Homo sapiens: one gene and its partner. The protein of the gene in region 2 purifies or fractionates together with the protein of the main gene of each other region. This does not show direct contact. Each region holds a gene or a part of one and is shown on either strand. Other genes may lie near its edges.

Evidence for each region.
Region 1: the proteins of SLC14A2 (region 2) and PKP2 purify together in Homo sapiens (affinity purification with mass spectrometry; 2 studies listed by BioGRID and IntAct, with this or other methods). This does not show direct contact.

The regions. Positions count from the first base shown.
Region 1 is NC_000012.12:32,794,373-32,803,578, forward strand, and holds part of PKP2 (plakophilin-2), read right to left. Parts: intron 8,185-9,206; coding exon 8,031-8,184; intron 1,927-8,030; coding exon 1,737-1,926; intron 1-1,736. UniProt on the Homo sapiens protein: A component of desmosome cell-cell junctions which are required for positive regulation of cellular adhesion.
Region 2 is NC_000018.10:45,638,843-45,648,048, reverse strand, and holds part of SLC14A2 (urea transporter 2), read right to left. Parts: intron 8,304-9,206; coding exon 8,156-8,303; intron 6,841-8,155; coding exon 6,706-6,840; intron 4,918-6,705; coding exon 4,868-4,917; intron 4,064-4,867; coding exon 3,889-4,063; intron 1-3,888.

The DNA of each region.
Region 1 (9,206 bases), on a different chromosome or scaffold from region 2:
ATTAGTTCCCAGGCTAGTCCACAAACGGTAGGTCAGATATATAACACTCTAGTAAGGAAAGAGCAGCAGACACCACTGGCAAGAAGCTCCTTGTTAACTTTTGTTTTTGAGACAGGGCATGTGAGGACTCACAAGTGGACACTCGGAAATAAACAAGTAACAGAGTAGCTCACCCCTTATCTTGCTAAGCTACCAGAAGTTTCCAAAAGTAATTGCATATTGCCATGTGCAACAATTGTTATGTCTGAATACTCGAATAATGAGCATCATACTATCTTACGGTGATTTGCTTGGAAGTTTGGATGACTATTTGGAAGAAAAGTCATTTCTGTTTTGCAACAGTAATTCACTCTTTCCACAAAGACTGAGCAACTCTAATACTATCTGCCAGCCTCTGGGGATGGGTGAATATTCTTGGGGAACTGACACTCCAGCCAGTGCTCAGGGCTTGTTTTAATCTGACTCTAAATGCAGTCTTCCTTCCTTGTGTGCACTGCAGAGTGGGGCTGCAGAGCAGAAGGGGCCTAAATTGGGTGGGGCTGTAGTAGAGGTAACATGTACATCCCTGTACAGCCAAGCACACATTTCTTCAGTACAGGTGAAGTCATCTGCTTTGTAACTCATTAAAACTAGGCTATCATAGCCATTTCTTTTCTTGTTTGGTTATTTACAAAAGTAACATATCTATTTGTAATAAGTCAAACAATTCAGAATTGTATAAAGAGAAAAAGATAATCTTCATGCCCCTTTCCAATCTCATCACTCTAAATTAACTAATAGTAAATAATTTGGTTATACAAGGTTTTTCATTCTCCTCCTTTTTTTTTTTAATAGGGAAAAGTTGAAAACAGGAACACAGATGTGGAATGACATGCATTGGACCTTCTATTATCAAAAGGGAATAAGATGCGGAAGAGATAAGACAGAGAAAAAACTGTGAAAGCAAGACTTTCTCATCAGGCTACCCCCTGACTGCTTCTCCTGTGTCATCACTGCTGCTGCTGCTTTTTTTTTTTTTTCTTTTTTGAGACAGAATCTCACTCTGTCAACCAGGCTGGAGTGCAGTGGCACGATCACGGCTCATTGCAACCTCTGCCTCCTGGGCTCAAGTGATTCTCAAACCTCAGTCTTCCAAGTAGCTAGAATTACAGACACGCACCACCACACCCAGCTAATTTTTGTATTTTTACTAGAGACAGGGTTTTGCCATGTCGGCCAGGCTGGTCTCGAACTTCTGACCTCAAGTGATCCATCTGCTTGGGCCTCCCAAAGTGCTGGGATTACAGGCATGAGCCACTGTGCCCAGCCCATCACTGCTTCTTCTAAACCACCTGGTGTGACATCCCCTCCTAAGATGGAAGTGAGGAAAAGGGCACTTGCCTATTCAGAGGACTCCTGCTTTGCCTACATTCTGCTGTTATTAAATCACAGCTGTGGCTTTGGGAAACTAATTCATTAGGCCAATACAATGCTGGAATGCACAACCAAGAGAAGTTCTGGAGTCTGACCCTCTGTTGATACTTTAGAAGAGAAGGGACAAGCATGTGGTGTGGTGGATTCAGTTCTTTCCTTGGCTGATCACTGAGGGCTGACCAGATGATCTGGCCTGGCTTTACATCCTGTTTGCTGCCATGTTGCACATGATGGTCATGACCGCACATTCACAACCGGATTATTTACACACAGGCTGGTGAGGGGAAAGGGAGGCAGCTGACGGGCAGAACTGAAGGACTTACGCATCGCCTGCACTAATGGCCATAATTTTCTGGATGCCCCCGGTGTTTAGAAGGTCGCGTGCATTCTGGTAACTGTTTTGGATTATGTTGTTCAATGTGTAACAGGCAGAGGCTGTAGTTTCAATGAGAAGGTCAGTACTCGGGACTGTGTCAGGAATGATGGAAACCAAATCAGGGAGAGTTTCTTTGGCTACAAAATGAAAAAAAAAACAAAACACTTGATTAAAAAGATTGTTTCTTAATCCCAAGATCCCAATATATTTTGGGTGAAGAACATTCTTTTTCTTTTTTTGAGACGGAATCTTGCTCTGTTGCCCAGGCTGGAGTGCAGTGGCACCATCTTGGCTCACTGCAAGCTCTGCCTCCCGGGTTCACGCCATTCTCTTGCCTCAGCCTCCCGAGTAGTTGGGACTACAGGCACCCGCCACCACGCCTGGCTAATTTTTTTATTTTTTTATTTTTTTTTATTTTCAGTAGAGACGGAGTTTCACCGTGTTAGCCAGGATGGTCTCGATCTCCTGACCTCGTGATCCGCCAGCCTCGGCCTCCCAAAGTGCTGGGATTACAGGCGTGAGACACTGCGCCCGGCCAAGAACTTTCTTAAAAAGAAACACAGCTGGTTAACAACACATGGAAAGATGTAATTTCCCTAATAACAAATTTTTAAAAATATTTGAAAAGAGGATACTCTGTGCTCAGTATATTGAAAATCTTTTCAGAGTGTAATTTGGCAGAAATGTCAAGAACTTAAAACATTTTCATCTTCTTCAATTCGGTAATTCCATGTCTAGGAATACATCTTAAAAATATCACTTTGAAAATGAAAAAAGCTTTCTACAGAGATCTTTATGACAGTACTACATGTAACTGAAAAACTAAAAAGCCTGAATATCCTTATAATAGGACTATGATTAACTAAAACACACCTGCAAAGACTATTATTCATCACAAAACCTATCTATGAAGCATGTATAATAAAAAGAAAATAATTATGTTAATAGTGTATGTGAAAAATCAGTATATTTATATAAATAATACATAATATTATTGGCCAGGTTCGGTGGCTCACACCTGTAATCCCAGCACTTTGGGAGGCTGAGGTGGGTGGATCACTTAAGGTCAGGAGTTCAGGACCAGCCTGGCCAACATGGTGAAACCCTGTCTCTATTAAAAATACAAAAATTAGCTGGGCGTAGTGGCACATGCCTGTGCCTGTAGTCCCTGCTACTCAGGAGGCTGAGGCACAAGAATTGCTTGAGCTTGGGAGGCAGAAGTGGCAGTGGGCAGAGATCACGCCACTATTCTCCAGCCTGGGCAACAGAGAGAGACCCTGTCTCAAAAAAAAAAAAAAAAAGAATACATACTATTACCAAAAAACCCACGTAAGAAACCTGAGGAAAAATGTTAATAGGAGCTGTTTTTCTACAACAATATTAATAGTGAACTAAAATCTTTTTTTTTTTTTGAAACAGAGTCTTGCTCTGTCACCCAGGCTGGAGTGCAGTGGCGCGATCTCGGCTCTCTGCAAGCTCCGCCTCCCGGGTTCATGCCATTCTCCTGCCTCAGCCTCCCGAGTAGCTGGGATTACAGGTGCCCGCCACCACGCCGGGCTAATTTTTTTGTATTTTTAGTAGAGACGGGGTTTCACCTTGTTAGCCAGGATGATCTTGATCTCCTGATCTTGTGATCCGCCCGCCTGGGCCTCCCAAAGTGCTGGGATTAGAAGCGTGAGCTACCGCGCCTGGCCAAGCTAAAATCATTTTTAAGGCCAGGCAAGGTAGCTCATGTCTGTAATCCCAGCACTTTAGAAGGCCGAGACAGGAGGATCACTTGAGCCCAGGAGTTTGAGACCAGTCTGGAAAATATAATGAGACCCCGTCTCTATTTTAAAAAGTAAAATTAAATAGTAAATAAATAATAAACGAATAATCTTTGCTTCCCAAGGTTTTTCCAATACATAAGTAATACTACTCTTGTTTTTTTTTTTTTTTTGGAGATGGAGTTTCGCTCTTGTTGCCCAGGCTGGAGTGCAATGGCACGATCTCATCTCACTGCAACCTCCGCCTCCCAGGTTCAAGCAATTCTCCTGCCTCAGCCTCCCGAGTAGCTAGGATTACAGGTACGCACCACCATGCCCGGCTAATTTTTTGTATATTTTTTTTTTCAGTAGAGATGGGGTTTCTCCATGTTGAGGCTGGTCTCGAACTCCTGACCTCAGGTGATCTGCCCGCCTCAGCCTCCCAAACTGCTGGGATTACAGGCGTGAGCCACTGCGCCTGGCCTACTATTTTAAAAAGAGAAATAAACTATTTTAAATGTACTTTTCTACTATGTATATAACTTCTTGGTTATAAGTTTTGAGTTTGGCTTTTTTTTTTTGTACTAACAAGAAAGGTATTAAAAAAATAGACATGCCACTTTCACAATTAGGCTATAGAAAATAAAAAAGATACATAGACCAATGGAATAGAATAGAAAACCCAGAAATAAAGCAAAATACTTACAGCCAACTGATCTTTGACAAAGCAAACAAAAACATTAAGTGGGGAAAGGCCACCCTATTCAACATATTCAACAAATGATGCTGGGATAATTGGCAAGCCACATGTAAAAGAATAAAGCTGGATCCTCATCTCTCACTTTATACAAAAATCAACTCAAGATGGATCAAAGATTAAATCTGAGACCTGAAACCATAAAAATTCTAGAAGATAACACTGGAAAAACTCTTCTAGACATTGGCTTAGGCAAAGAGTTCATGACCAAGAACCCAAAAGCAAATGCAACAAAACCAAAAATAAGTAAATGGGATCCAATTAAACTAAAAAGCTTCTGCACAGCAAAATAAATAATCAGCAGAGTAAACAGACACCCCACAGAGTGGGAGAAAATATTCACAAACTGCATTCGACAAAGGACTAATATCCAGAATCTACAAGGATCTCAAAAAAGCAAGAAAAAAGCCAAATAATTCCATCAAAAAGTGGGCTAAGGACATGAATAGACAATTCTCAAAAGAAGATATACAAATGGCATAAGAAAAATTTTTTGATACGCCTCATACATATGAAAAAATGCTCAACATCACTAATTATCATGGAAATGCAAATTAAAAGCACAATGAGATACCACCTTACTCCTGCAAGAATGACCATAATTTAAAAATCAAAATTTAATAGATGTTGGCATGGATATGGTGAAAAGGGAACACTTCTACACTGCTGGTGGGAATGTAAACTAGTACAACCACTATGGAAAACAGTATAGAGATTCCTTAAAGAACTAAAAGTAGAACTACCATTTGATCCAGCAATACCACTACTGGGTATCTACCCAAAGGAAAAGAAGTCATTATATGAAAAAGACACTTGTACATGCATGTTTATAGCAGCACAATTCACAATTGCAAAATATGGAGCCAACCTAAATGCCCATCAACCAACGAGTGGATACAGGAAATGTGGTATATACACACCATGGAATACTACTCAGCCATTAAAAAGAAAGACATAATGGCCTTTGCGGCAAATTGGATGGAATTAGAGACCACTATTCTAAGTGAAATAACTCAGGAATGGAAAACCAAATATTGGATGTTCTCACTTATAAGTGAGAGCTAAGCTATGAGGATGCAAAGGAACAAGAGTTATATAATGGATTTTGGGGACTTGGGGGAAAGGTAGGAAGGGGTGAGGGATAAAAGACTACACATTGGGTACAGTGTACACTGCTCAGGTGACATGTGCACCAACATTTCAGAAATAATCACTAAATAACTTTTGCATGTAACTGAACACCACCTGTACCCAAAAATCTATTGAAAATTCTTAAAAGGTGTTAATATTTGATAAATCCACTGGAACTTGTCCTATGGTACATATTTTGGTCAATGTGAACTTGTGCTTAAACTTTTTGTAATAGTTATTTTCATGTATGTTTTCCTCTTTTTCCTCTAACCACTTTAGACTCTTCTTAAAAGATAGAGAGCATGCATCTTTTGCTTTTGCTGATCCCCACAGCTTCTGAATACGTGTTGTGTTTATCAGCAATTAACAAATACTGCCTAATTTTATTGTGTGCCTTCATCTGTGTTCATGTGGCATCTTGAAGCACATTTCTCTCTCTATGATACTGATAGTAATGAATTGTGTGACTGTCTCAACTTCAGATGAGGCTGTGGGTTCCTTGAAGCCAATTATCTTACTTATTTCTGTGTTTACAGCGTTGATCATTATTCCTGAAATGGACAAGTACTCAATAAAAGGCACTGAATGATATGTCATCATAATACCTGGACCTGATTGACAGGTAAGACATACCTTTTGCTCACAGGCCTGAACACTTTCCTTTTGACTGTGGTTCAAGCACACAGCATACTGTGGAGAGCTCAGCGTTCATCTAAAGCCAGAGTGCTGTAGTTTCAGTCCTGGTTCTGCTACTTTACAGCTCTATGGCCTGAGCAAGCTACTTAATGTCTCTATTTGTTTTTCCCTAAGTTGCAATGTGGGATAATAATGTCTACGTCACAGGGTTGTTCTGAGGGAACGAGTCAATGCATGTTAATTGTATTGCAGTACTGCGCATGTGGTAAGCTCTCAGTGGATGCTATTATCAGAAGTCTCCCTCCTTTTAGTAAGTTAAACTACAGAATGAAAGGCCTTGACTGGCAAAATAGCACTGTGAGATACAAACCCATGTTTTCTGTGTGAAATCTGTTATTCTGTTACCATGCTCCATTGCCTGTCTTTAAGTTTTTGAGAAAATGTAAGTTTCAAGTTTATTTCTCTAGATGTAAGTAAAACATAACAACTTTATTGCAGGTGAGAACAGGGAAAGTTACCTGGCTTAGAAAGCTCTCATGAGAAACACAAAGCATGTGTTCAAGCTGACTTTCACTTATTTCTTGCTATTAAAATTCTGAATTAAGAGAAGTCCTTTTACTTATATATTTGACATGAAGCCAATCTGGAATTTTAAAATAGCATTTATCTTGCTGAAGCCTCTTTTCTCTGTTATCCTTAAAGTGAAGTTTATCAACAGAATCCTCTAATATAAACCATGTGGCTACAGCTATACCTTCCCGACATTTAGGGGACTGCAGAACCTGAGGCCAACAGCATTTCTGCCCTGAAGGTACATGCTTAATGTGTATAGTGCTGTTATTTACCTTGGTGGTGTTTTAAAGATGGAGTCAATTTTTCATTTGGGAAAAGAACAAAAAAGGGAAAGGATAATACACTGCCATTGAAGTTCAGCACAAAAGACCATGGGGAGAGCATTTTAATAATTCTGAGAGTGCCTATGGCGAGGTCTCTTTCAGATTCACTGAGAATGTTCCAGGCTTATCTCTACTTAGAATGAGCATGAAGCCATTGCATAAAACCTCCTGTCAAATGTGCTGCTGGCTGGCTTTGAAAATGACATTACTAAAACATAACTGCAGCCTTTAATATCTCTGGGGCTATATATGTGCATATTTAAAAATCTAATCCATTAAAACAGGCAAAATATTGTTTATAATTTTTGTGAAATGTGAAAAACCGAATTTGAGTTGTTAGAAACGACCGATTACAGAGCATTATGAAGCATGTTTAATTTTAGCATTATCTTTCTATCATCTCATTTTGTAATTTTCTACTAGATACAACAAACATTTATCACATACTTCTTGGTATAAGCAAACAAATAAAAAAGTACCGTTATCATCTCTGTCAATAATACAGTCAAAGGCAAAATATGTCTCATCACAGTTACTCAAAAAAAATCCATGCCAAATTTGCTATATTCAGTGACTCCTTGTCTTTTTATTGTGATTATCTGTTTATCCATTTTTTTAATAGTCCAACACACTGCCAAACTACTAAAGTAAACCACCACTATATGTGTTTTTCAAATGTTCTAGAATTGTGGTGCTTAAGAGAGCCACAGAGAGAACATTCTGAAAGACAACTATATGGATTAGAAAGACTTCATTGGATGGTGTGACTGAGGGTGCCACCCAGTGAAAAATATCAACAATATTACTTATCTTGTTAATTATTAGTATGCTCTAAAATTTCTCTTTTGTAGTAATTTTTTTTTTAAATGTTGGATATTTAAAAAAAATCTCTGGTGAGATCCACTGAGAAAGCCTGTTTGTGATATCTGGTGGCACAAAAGGCAGGCCGGTTTATCACCTACTCCTTACTCCCATTTCCAGTGCATCTTTGTGAACGGGAGGTGATACAGACAACATTTCATTGCATTGTATCTTCAGCATGTACATATTACACATAGATACTTATACCGACTCACCAATTTCATTCTGCAGAGAAAGATTCCGGGACAGATTCCTCAGCAGCGAGATGGCTGTCTTTTTCACACTTGGGTCACCAACATGCAGCATCTTTCGGGTGTGCTGCAGGCCACTTTCCTTCTGGACAACTGTCTGAGCCACTGATGTCGGCATCTGTTTTGTGAGACATATCCTATAAGTGCTATTGTATTTGATTTCACGATAACATTAAGTTTTCTGTAGATTACCAGAGGTTGATGAAGATGTTTTATTTTTATCTTATTTATTTATTTTGAGACAAAGTCTCTCTCTGTCATTCAGGCTGGAGTGCAGTGGTGTGATCTCAGCTCACCACAACCTCCACCTCCCAGGTTCAAGTGATTCTCCTGCCTCAGCCTCCAGACTAGCTGGGATTACAGGTGTGTGCCACCACGCCCAGCTAATTTTTTGGAATTTTAGTAGAGATGGTGTTTCACCATGTTGGCCAGGCTGGTCTCGAACTCCTGACTCAGGTGATCCACCTGCCTCAGCCTCCTAAAGTGTTGGGATTACAGGCGTGAACCACCATGCCCAGCCGAAGATGTTTTAAAAATTAGAACTGTGATGGAACTAGTCTAAAGGTATTTTCTTTAAACTCTTATTAAGTTTTCAAGTCAATTACTAGATAAAAACCTGTTTATTCAGTACTTTTAAATGCAATCTTGGGGCCGGGTGTGGTGGCTCACACCTGTAATCCCAGCACTTTGGGAGGCCAAAGCTGGCTGATCACCTGAGGCCAGGAGTTCAAGACCAGCCTGGCCAACATGGTGAAACCCTGTCTTTACTAAAAAATACAAAAATATTAGCCAGGCGTGGTGGCACGTGCCTGTAGTCCCAGCTACTCAAGAGGCTGGGGCAGGAGAATCGCTTGAACCTGGGAGACAGAGGTTGCAGAGAGCCAAGATCATGCCACTGCGCTCAGCCTGGGTGACAGAGTGACAGTGTCTAAACAAACAAACAAACAAACAAACAAATGCAATGCAATGTTGGATTTAATTAGGTTATTAACATTTTTTCCATCTGTGTTTATAAATAAAATGGATTTCCCTTTTCCTTTTCTTGTACTACCCTTTTCACTTTTAGAATCAAGGTTATACTAACATCATTAAGTTAGTTGGGTAGTATTTAATCTTTTTCTATCTCCTTTAGCTATTTGT
Region 2 (9,206 bases):
CAATTATAGTTGATTTTTAACAAACCCTTTTCAGAATTAAGACCCCATATACAAAAAAATAAGAACATAGAGAAATTGAATAATACAATTAACAAATCAATTTAATATGTATTTCTTTCAAAGTAAAATTTAATTTTATATGTCCAAAATCAATCAGGTACTTGACAATGAAGAAAAATTCACACAATTTTAAAATAAAGATTTTTACAGGCCATGTTTTCTGCTCATAATCCAATAAAACTAGATATACAAAGTTAAAAAAATCAAGATTCCTAAATGCTAGAAATTAAGAAACCCATTATTAAATAATCCTCAAACAACCAAAGAGGAATAAAAATTAAAATTACAAACTATTTTAAAAATGATAAATGTAGACTCCTTTATTCTAAAACCTATAGTATCCAGCTAAAGCTGTACTCAGGAGAAAATTAATAGCTGTAAATGGCTTTGTTGTTAGAAAGACCTAAAATGAAGGAATTCTACATCAATTTTAAAACATTAGAAAATAACATTTAAACCTTAAGAAAACAGGAAAAATAAATCAATAGAAAACAAACCAAAACAAGTAGAAAGGACAAATAAATCCAAAATCGCTTCTTTGAAAAAGTCAATAAAATTAACGAACTCCTTGCAAACCTGATTAAAGAAAAGAGATAACAAAATTATGTAAGAGTAGAAATGAGAAGGGGATAAAACCATGCATACAGGAGAGACTGAAATTGTTTTATGAGAACATTATAAGTAACTCTATGGCCACAAACATTTAAAGCTAAAGAAAATTGATTATATCTTAGCAAATGCTCAAGCTTGACTCAAGATGAAGCAGAAAACTTGACTATGTCAATTATGGAAGAAACTGGAAAGATGATTTAAGATCTGCCATTTTAAAGTGCAGCAGGACAAGACTGTCATGGCTGATAGAATTCATCAGTGTTGTATGAGAGGAGATAAAGATGGGAGAAAGTGTTGGGGAGGGCAGAGACTGGGAGAGGGAGAGTGGAAGATGGGTGAGATAGGAAAAGAGTTTGAGACACAGCCTCCTCTAAAGTCCCTTTCTCTCCAAACTGACACATCTTTAATGATTGCATATTTATGTTCAACATAGACACTCTCATTTGTACAGCCAAGAGCTGTTGCTTGTAGTTTGGGGTGATGGTAGAAAAACTGCCAGAATATGGGTCCCCAAACCCTTCTTCTTCTCTCATCATGGCCTGCCCCCATGCAACCTCATGTTGGTGCTGTGAATCTGTAAGTTTAGAGATCTTTTACCTACCCATTCAGCAGGTAGATGAGGTGGGGAAGCCCTGGGGAAGGTGGGACAAGATCACTCCAGGAGCTCTCCAGTCTCGTGAGATGAGGTGAAGAGTTGGCAGGGGTGGGGGAGATGGGGGGAGTTGGTGGGAAAAGAAAGCGATAATCTTGTCCAAATCAGCTGAAATAATTTTTTATATCCAAATAGTTTTCCTCTCCTGGGGATCCAGTAAGCATGGCTAAAAGACAGTCCCCAATCAGACCCAATGCTTTGGGTGGACAGCCTCAAAGAGCTTAATGAAGACAGGAGGGGATTTTCTAGGGCAATGAGTGGGGTCTCTGGTTCTGGTTATCTGTTGTTAAAATACTTTGGGAGCCTTGCCTCCATTTTGGGTAATTGAATCTGTTCTGGAAACCCGGCAGAGAACTGAAGCCCTTATCCTAATATTATAGAGGTTTTCATGCATCATGGGATCGGACCACCTGATCTTCACACTCCCTTCAAACGTTGGGATTCTCTGAACCTCCCTGTCCTTCCTGCCTGGAAAACTCCAGCACTGAAGGGTCATCAGTTTTTCTTTGTCCAAGAGTGGTGTGCTTTCTGGCAGATGAGAGAACAACAGAGTGAGAGGTTGGAGAAGAGTGAACCTTAGAAATAGTTCCCAGACAATGTAGAAGGCGGGTCTTGGTTTAAAACTGCACCCCTTAGTGCACATCACTGGGTATCCTAGTTCTCCAGCAGCCCCAGAGCAGGTCCTCCTGATTCCAGTCATGCTACTGTCACTTTTCTGGGTATCCTCCATTTCCTGAGGGTCTTCATGCTGTCACCAGCATGTAAAACCCCTTTGCTATGTCGCAAGGGACTTGGTGGTGTCTGTTTGGGCCTGTGCACCGCCCACCAGTTTGTAAGCATTAGTATGTAGACTGTCTCTATCAGGGATCTGCAAAATACAGCTTGTGGACCAAATCTAGCTCACTGCTTGTTTAATAAAGTTTTATTGACACATAGCCATACTCATTCATTTACACGTTGTCTATGGCTACTTTTATGCTATAATGACAGGGTTAAGACTTTGCCAAAGAGAATATATGGCCTCCCAGCAGAAAATATTTACTATCTGGCTCTTTACAGAAAAAGTTTGCTGACCCCGATCTATATATATCTTTGTATATGTATATATATATTTAAAAAGACCAAATGAAAGCTATTGACTATAGTTGAGAAACAAAATTATGAAATTCATAGATAATTGTCTTTCTATAGTCAGGGCTACCTATTTGTTTTAAATATCATACACTTCATAAAGCCTCCCATGCTCACAAGCAAATAGAAGAATGAAGTAAATTTCCCAAGCTTTTTACACATGGAACTCAGGTACTTTCCTTAACTGAAATCTCTGCTTAGAGATGCTGGTTTGATTTGTCCCAGCAATCCCATTACTAGGTATATACTGAAAGGATTATAAATCATTCTATTGTAAAGACACAAGCACACATATGTTTATCACAGCACTGTATACAATAGCAAAGTCTTGATAGACTGGATGAAGAAAATGTGGCACATATACACCATGGAATACTATGCAGCCATAAAAAGAATGAGTTCATATCCTTTGCAGGGACATGGATGAAGCTGGAAGCCATCATTCTCAGCAAACTAACACAGGAACAGAAAATCAAACACCACATGTTCTCACTTATAAGTGGGAGTTGAACAGTGAGAACACGTGGACACAGGGAGGGGAACATCACACACTGGGCCCTGTTGGGGGATGGGAGGCAAGAGGAGGGAGAGCACTAGGATAACTACCTAATGCACGTGGGGCTTAAAACCTAGATGACGGGTTGATAGGTGCAGCAAACCACCATGGCACATATATACCTATATAACAAACCTGCATGTTCTGCACATGTATCCCAGAACTTAAAATTAAAAAAATTAAATTTTAAAGAGATGCTGGTTTGACCTAAACTAAGAAATGCTTATCCTCCATAATAAAGTCATATATAGGATTCTAATTTATTAATTCCTCCCTGCTATGGAATATCGCCTTGCCCCTTACAAAGACCACTGAATGGTTAAGACTCCTTATTTAGATAATTCCCTGCCCCAATCGTCCCTGTTTTGACTTTAAAATCCCATCAGTGTGAAATTCCTCTCTTTGTGGTCATTAGTCTCTAGCTCAGCCACTAGAGAGCCTTCCCTTCCTAGCCTGTGTCCCCTGACTTACCCCCCTACTCTGTGTCTGCCTAGGAACCACTCAACAAGTTTAATTTTATAGCATCTATTATTTAGTTTAAGATGCCAAGAAGATCACCTGTTAATTACCTTTCCAAAAGACTACTGTTTTTGTTTTAAGTCAACAACATTTAAGACACACACCTTATTGCTAACTCCGGAAATTTTACTGTAATACCAACATCCCTTAATGTCGCACAATAGATAGTTATGGAGATTCTGGCAGAGAATGAAAATCAGCTTCAGGGAAAGAAAGTTACAGGTGTGCTTGGTTCTACACAGGTGCAAGGAGAGGCAAAGAAGGTGAGTGCTGCAACTGATTGAACCAGAGCAGAGAACACAGGGAGAGGACATCAGGTCAGGCAAAGAGCGTTTCTTCCCCGAACATGGCTATTCACCGCTGGGGGCCTTCTCTTCTTCACCGCTTTTCACTGTCAGGTAGTAGATGCGGTTGGCCTCGGGGTAGGTGACTTTGCTGAGTGGGAGTCTGAAGATGGCTGGGTTGTTTGTCGTCAGGAGCAGGAAGATGATGGTGGCAAGGCAGAAGGCCCAGGTGCCTGGTGGCACGCCCACCTGGAAACAAAAGCATTGGGGACTGAAGAAGTTTCCTAGTTTCCTGTGTTGGGCTGGGGACTCTGGGGGAGAAGGATGTGACAGGCGTTGAGGATGGAGATCCTCCCTCCAGTGAAGGCATTGATATTCCTGGATTTGCAATGTCACAGTAGTTGGTCAAAGAATTTAGGGCTGGATGCAGTGGCTCATGCCTGTAATACCAGCACTTTGGGAGGCCAAGGTGGGAGGATCACTTGAGCCCAGACCAGCCTTGGCAACAAAGTGAGACCCAAAAAAATACAAAAGACAGCTGGGCATGATGGTGCATGCCTCTAGTCCCAGCTACTTGGGAGGCTGAACTGGGAGGATGGCTTGAGTCCTGGGAGGTTGGAGCTGCAGTGAGCCAAGATTGCACTACTGCATTCCAGCCTGGGCAACAGTGCGAGACCCTGTCTTGCAAAGAAAACAAAAACAAAACAGATAATTTGAGCCACAATCAGAATCTTTCAATGATGGAGCTGAAAATTGGCCTGAGGATGTTCCCCCATGTCCAGTCACACAGCTCCATCTGTCCGTCGTGTTTTCCACTGCTAGTTACATTGCAATCTTTCAACACACACACACACCCCTCCCTCTCCTAGAGGTACATGTATGCAATTGTCAATCCTCCTCCGGACAACCTTAGATAAACCTTAACAGAGATGTCGTGTGAGCACCAGCTACCATTACCCGCTCAATGTTCCTTTCCCAGACCCCACAACCCCATATGTCCAGAAGCTCTGGGAAGAGCACTTTGGGGTAGTGTTCAGGAGAATCCACACTTACCACTGACATGATGTTGGAGATGGCTGCTTCCATGTATGCACAGAACAGGGCTGTGGAGGAACAAGGATCACCAGAGTGAGCTTCCCAGGGCCTTCCCCCTAAGCCACTGCCATTGCAGACCAGGGAGCCCAGACCAAGAACAGGAGCCCCACCCTCTCTCCTGCAGCCTCAGATTCTGCACCATGCCCTGACAGCTGGCATGCTTGCCTGGCATTTGTTATCTCTGTAGACAGGTGAGGCCAGTCTCCCACCAGACTGTTCATTCTTCGGGCAGAGATTAAAACATATATTTCCTTTTGTCCCCTCCCTGCTTCCATAGTGGCCTTGCATGGAGTCAGGGGTCAATACACATCATATGCTAGTCTACGCTGATGGTAGCGAAGAGCTAGTACAGGCTGGATGATTGTTGTAGGGGAAGAGTGGTCAGACTATACGAGCTCCTGCCAAGGTCCCTCCTATTCAAGACTGTGAGCAGCTGTGATGCTGCTTGATGTTCACCAAGTCTCACCAGGGCTGAACCTTACTAGACCCCTGAACCAGTCCCCAGGAGCCAGGCAGCTGGGTTCCCCCATGGGAGCTGGGTCCTGAGGACAGTCAGGAAAGCTCGTCCATGTAGCTGGTGCCTCTGGACAAACTCCTTCTGCCTGCAGCTTTGCTCTTTCTCCTTCTCTGTCCGGAACACCTCTTCCCTCTCTCTTTGTCAACTCAGATCCTACTAGAAGTGTTGAGATAAACCCTAGCCTCCCCCTGTAGGCTTCCCAGATGATTCCAGCCACAGGAATCTGCCACTTCTCTGAAGGCCAAAAGCAGTTACGGTCTGAACCTCAAAATAACAGGCACTTTTAACTTGACAAATATTTACTAGGTCCACTGTCTCCATGCCCAGCCTCATGTTGGCTGCTGAGGGGATACAAGGGATATGGAAGTCATTCTCAGTCTCCAAGCATAAGTGGGAAAAAACAAAAGAGAAGCTGTTCCAGACGCTAGTCTTCTGTTTCCTTGACTCTAGTTTTATTTATTAATGTCCTGTCCTGCTTCCAGAGAACAATACCAGGAGAGGAGAGCTGGTGGCAAGCTGGGGCTGGGATTGACTCTCCCTTTTGCCATTAATAGCTATCTTCTAGGGCAAGTTAATTAGCCCCTCTGAGCCTCATTTCCTCATCTGTAAAATGGGCCAGGCAGGCTATGCCTGGTGGTATTCTTGGGGGGATTAAGTGAGTTTGTATATTTATATAACAGGGTATGGTGCTGGGATACAGGTGTATGAGAAGGACTATGGCTGATTTCCCTTCTGGCAGCATATTCTCTGTTTATGGAAATCGAGCTTCCATAATGTGGTTATGATTTTTAGTGCTCCTGGTACATCACCTCACTGGATCATTCCAACAACCTTTGTGGACGCTGCAGCCTTAGTAATTATTTGTGCAATTACTTCTCTCCTGCTAGGCTGTGGCTTCATGAGGATGTAGTCACCATGGTATCTTCTATACCTAGACTAGGTCCTGGCACTTGATGGTGTTGTATAAACAGTTGTTGAATGAAGAGTTATAGAGAGCAGGAATGCTGTCATTAGCACACAAGGAAATGCATATGTGATTTCCTTATAAACTTTACAACACTGTGTAAGTATAATACCATTCGGTGGTTGTGATCCCATTTGACAGAAAAGGGACCTGAAATCCCCAGCTGTTAAGGGCAGCACTGGCATTAGGACGCAAGCCATTGGCCTTTCTGTCACTGCTGAACAGTATTGATTAGTGGTCCCCATGGGTTTCACATAAACAAGGGGGGAAGGAATAGCCAGAATAACCTGGTTGTCAGCTTTTCTGAACACCTACCACAGATGAGGGCCAGCAGGTGAGTCTGCCAGGTGAGGGCATAGAACATGCCTCCGATGGCGATGCAGGAGAGGACGCAGTTGTAGCTCCAGAGGCCTGTGTAGATGGTCTCGAAGGGTGTGGCCACTGACAGGGCTATGGGACAAGGTGTGGTATTTCTGTCTGATTCTGGGCCACAGAACAAAGACCACCCTGGGACTGGTGCCAGGTCTCAGAGTGGCCTCCATGCTGTTGTTCACCCCACATCTCCAAACCTGCCCATCAAAAGAGCCTCTACAAATGGCATCCGGTCTTAGGAGACCTTCAATGAAAAGAGAACAGTGGTTTCCAAACCAGTTGTCAAAGCCACAGGCTTCACTTGGAGGTCCTCCTGGGTGAGAAGAGGCAAGGAGGTGGGATTCTAGGCCCCTTCTTACTGCTTTGACTACAGCAACTGCAGTCTTAGCAAGAAAGTTTCCAAAAAGGTTTGAAGAGTTAAACAAATATTTTTAAAAGTTGTTTCAAGTGCTCTGGAAAAATATCCCTATACACTTATGGATATATGTAGATAGAGGAATGATACAGCAGAAGGAGTAAGATGTGAACAGTGGGTACATCTGGGGAAAGAATTTACAGATGCCTCATATTTTTATTTTTACCATTTTTTGATGAGTTTAAAACTATTTCCAAATAAAAAATACTTTTTAAAGTTTTGCTTCCAAAAAAATCTTTGAAAAATATTAGAAGAAGTCTAAAACAGGTTCCTACTCCCAATGCTCCTACCCCAATCTCTGACTCTGTTGTCAGAAAGAGCAAATACCTATTTAAATGTGTATACATACATATACACAGGTAGCAATATTAAAGCACATTTGTTAAGTGGCAATCCAATGTTTGAGAACAATTTTCTTTGTATCTTACCAAAAATTTCAGAGTGCTGGGCCATTTATTTTATCACAGTTGGTCTTGGTTACTGCTCCCGCCCCTACCCCTGTGTCTCTCCAGCATCCTCAGCTCCAGGGGCTCAGTTTGCAGGCCAACTTGGTTCTTACCCCCTTGCATCTCTCCACATGTATTTTTTTTTTTTTTAAGACGGAGTCTCACTCTATTTCCCAGGCTGGAGTGAGGTGGTACGATCTTGGCTCATTGCAACCTCCACCTCCTGGGTTCAAGTGATTCTCCTGCCTCAGCTCCCCAAGTAGCTGGGATTATGGGTGCCCACCACCACACCCAGCTAATTTTTGTACTTTTTTTTCTTTAGTAGAGATGGGTTTTCACCCTGAGTTCAGGTCATCTATGTGCCTCGGCCTCCCAAAGTGCTGGGATTACAGGCATAAGTCACCGTGCCTGTCTCCCTGAAAGTATTTAAAACTGCAGGGAAGAGAATGTCTGGAAGATTTGCTGTATGTAGGGGAAAAGTGACCTTGAGTGAATTATCCTGAGGACCTGAAGAGAGGGAGCTCTGTCCTACCTGCTAGCAGCCCCACGATTGAGCCAATGGCTGCATGCAAGCAGATGAGTGGCGAGGAGATGAACAGAGCCACCAGGAACACGCCGCCTGTCCAGGGATTGTCACAGCCATACACCTGGCCGACCCCAACAGGGATGGCTTGTAACAGCTGCAAAGTTAACAGAATACAGGTCACTGGAGCATGGACAATAATGCAAAAACCAGACTCAGGGCCAGATTTGAGCCATTCCTCGGGGGAGTAATGGAGTGGAACGGGAGGATGACTGTACCCTCCAGCATGTGAGAGAACATGGGAGGCATGAGCTGGAACAAACAGCTCCTCACTCTACCACCCAGCAGGCATGTGAGCATCCCTCATGCAAAGCCAGGGCCCCCAACATGGGCTGGGCATGGATGCTTCTGAGGAACATACGGCTTCTGCTTTGAGGGGACCAGAATGCACCTCCTCCCTAGAATGCCGCTGGGAGTTTCAGGGCTCTCGGGGATTTCCTCTAGACCTTCTGAAATCCATACAAATATTCTAGGAATATTGAAAATACAGTAGGCCATTTTGATGTATGATTTGACTAAAAGTCACCCAGCCTGTTGTTGGTCAAGTGCAGGCTAGAGGCTCTGAGCTTGACCCCTAGCTCAGGTCTGAGGTCTTTGTCACCCTTGCTGTCTCTTTGTCAAGCCACTGCTGACACGTCCTCTTTGGCGGCCCCTGCCCATTCACTGCTACCCTGGGGGGTTGTGAGCCTTTGGAAAGGAGCAGTAGGCATGCCCCCTGCTCTCGAAGACCGCATAGCATTGTAGAAAGGTAGTATGTGGCACATCTGGAGAATGGCCTGAAGCCCAGACATCCCTGAGCCTGAGAGTAACTTGGTGCTGGAATTGGGGAGAATTTGTTTGGCAGTGCTGACAGATGGCTTTTCTGTGGCCAGGCTGAATTGTCGATATTTTTGGAGTCCTTTGAGGGCAGAAAAAGAAAGGAGGGAGAATGGCAGGGCAGGCAGAGCACTGGCCTGGGAGTAGAGGGCTCTAGCTTCCATCAGGGCTCTGCACAGTTCAC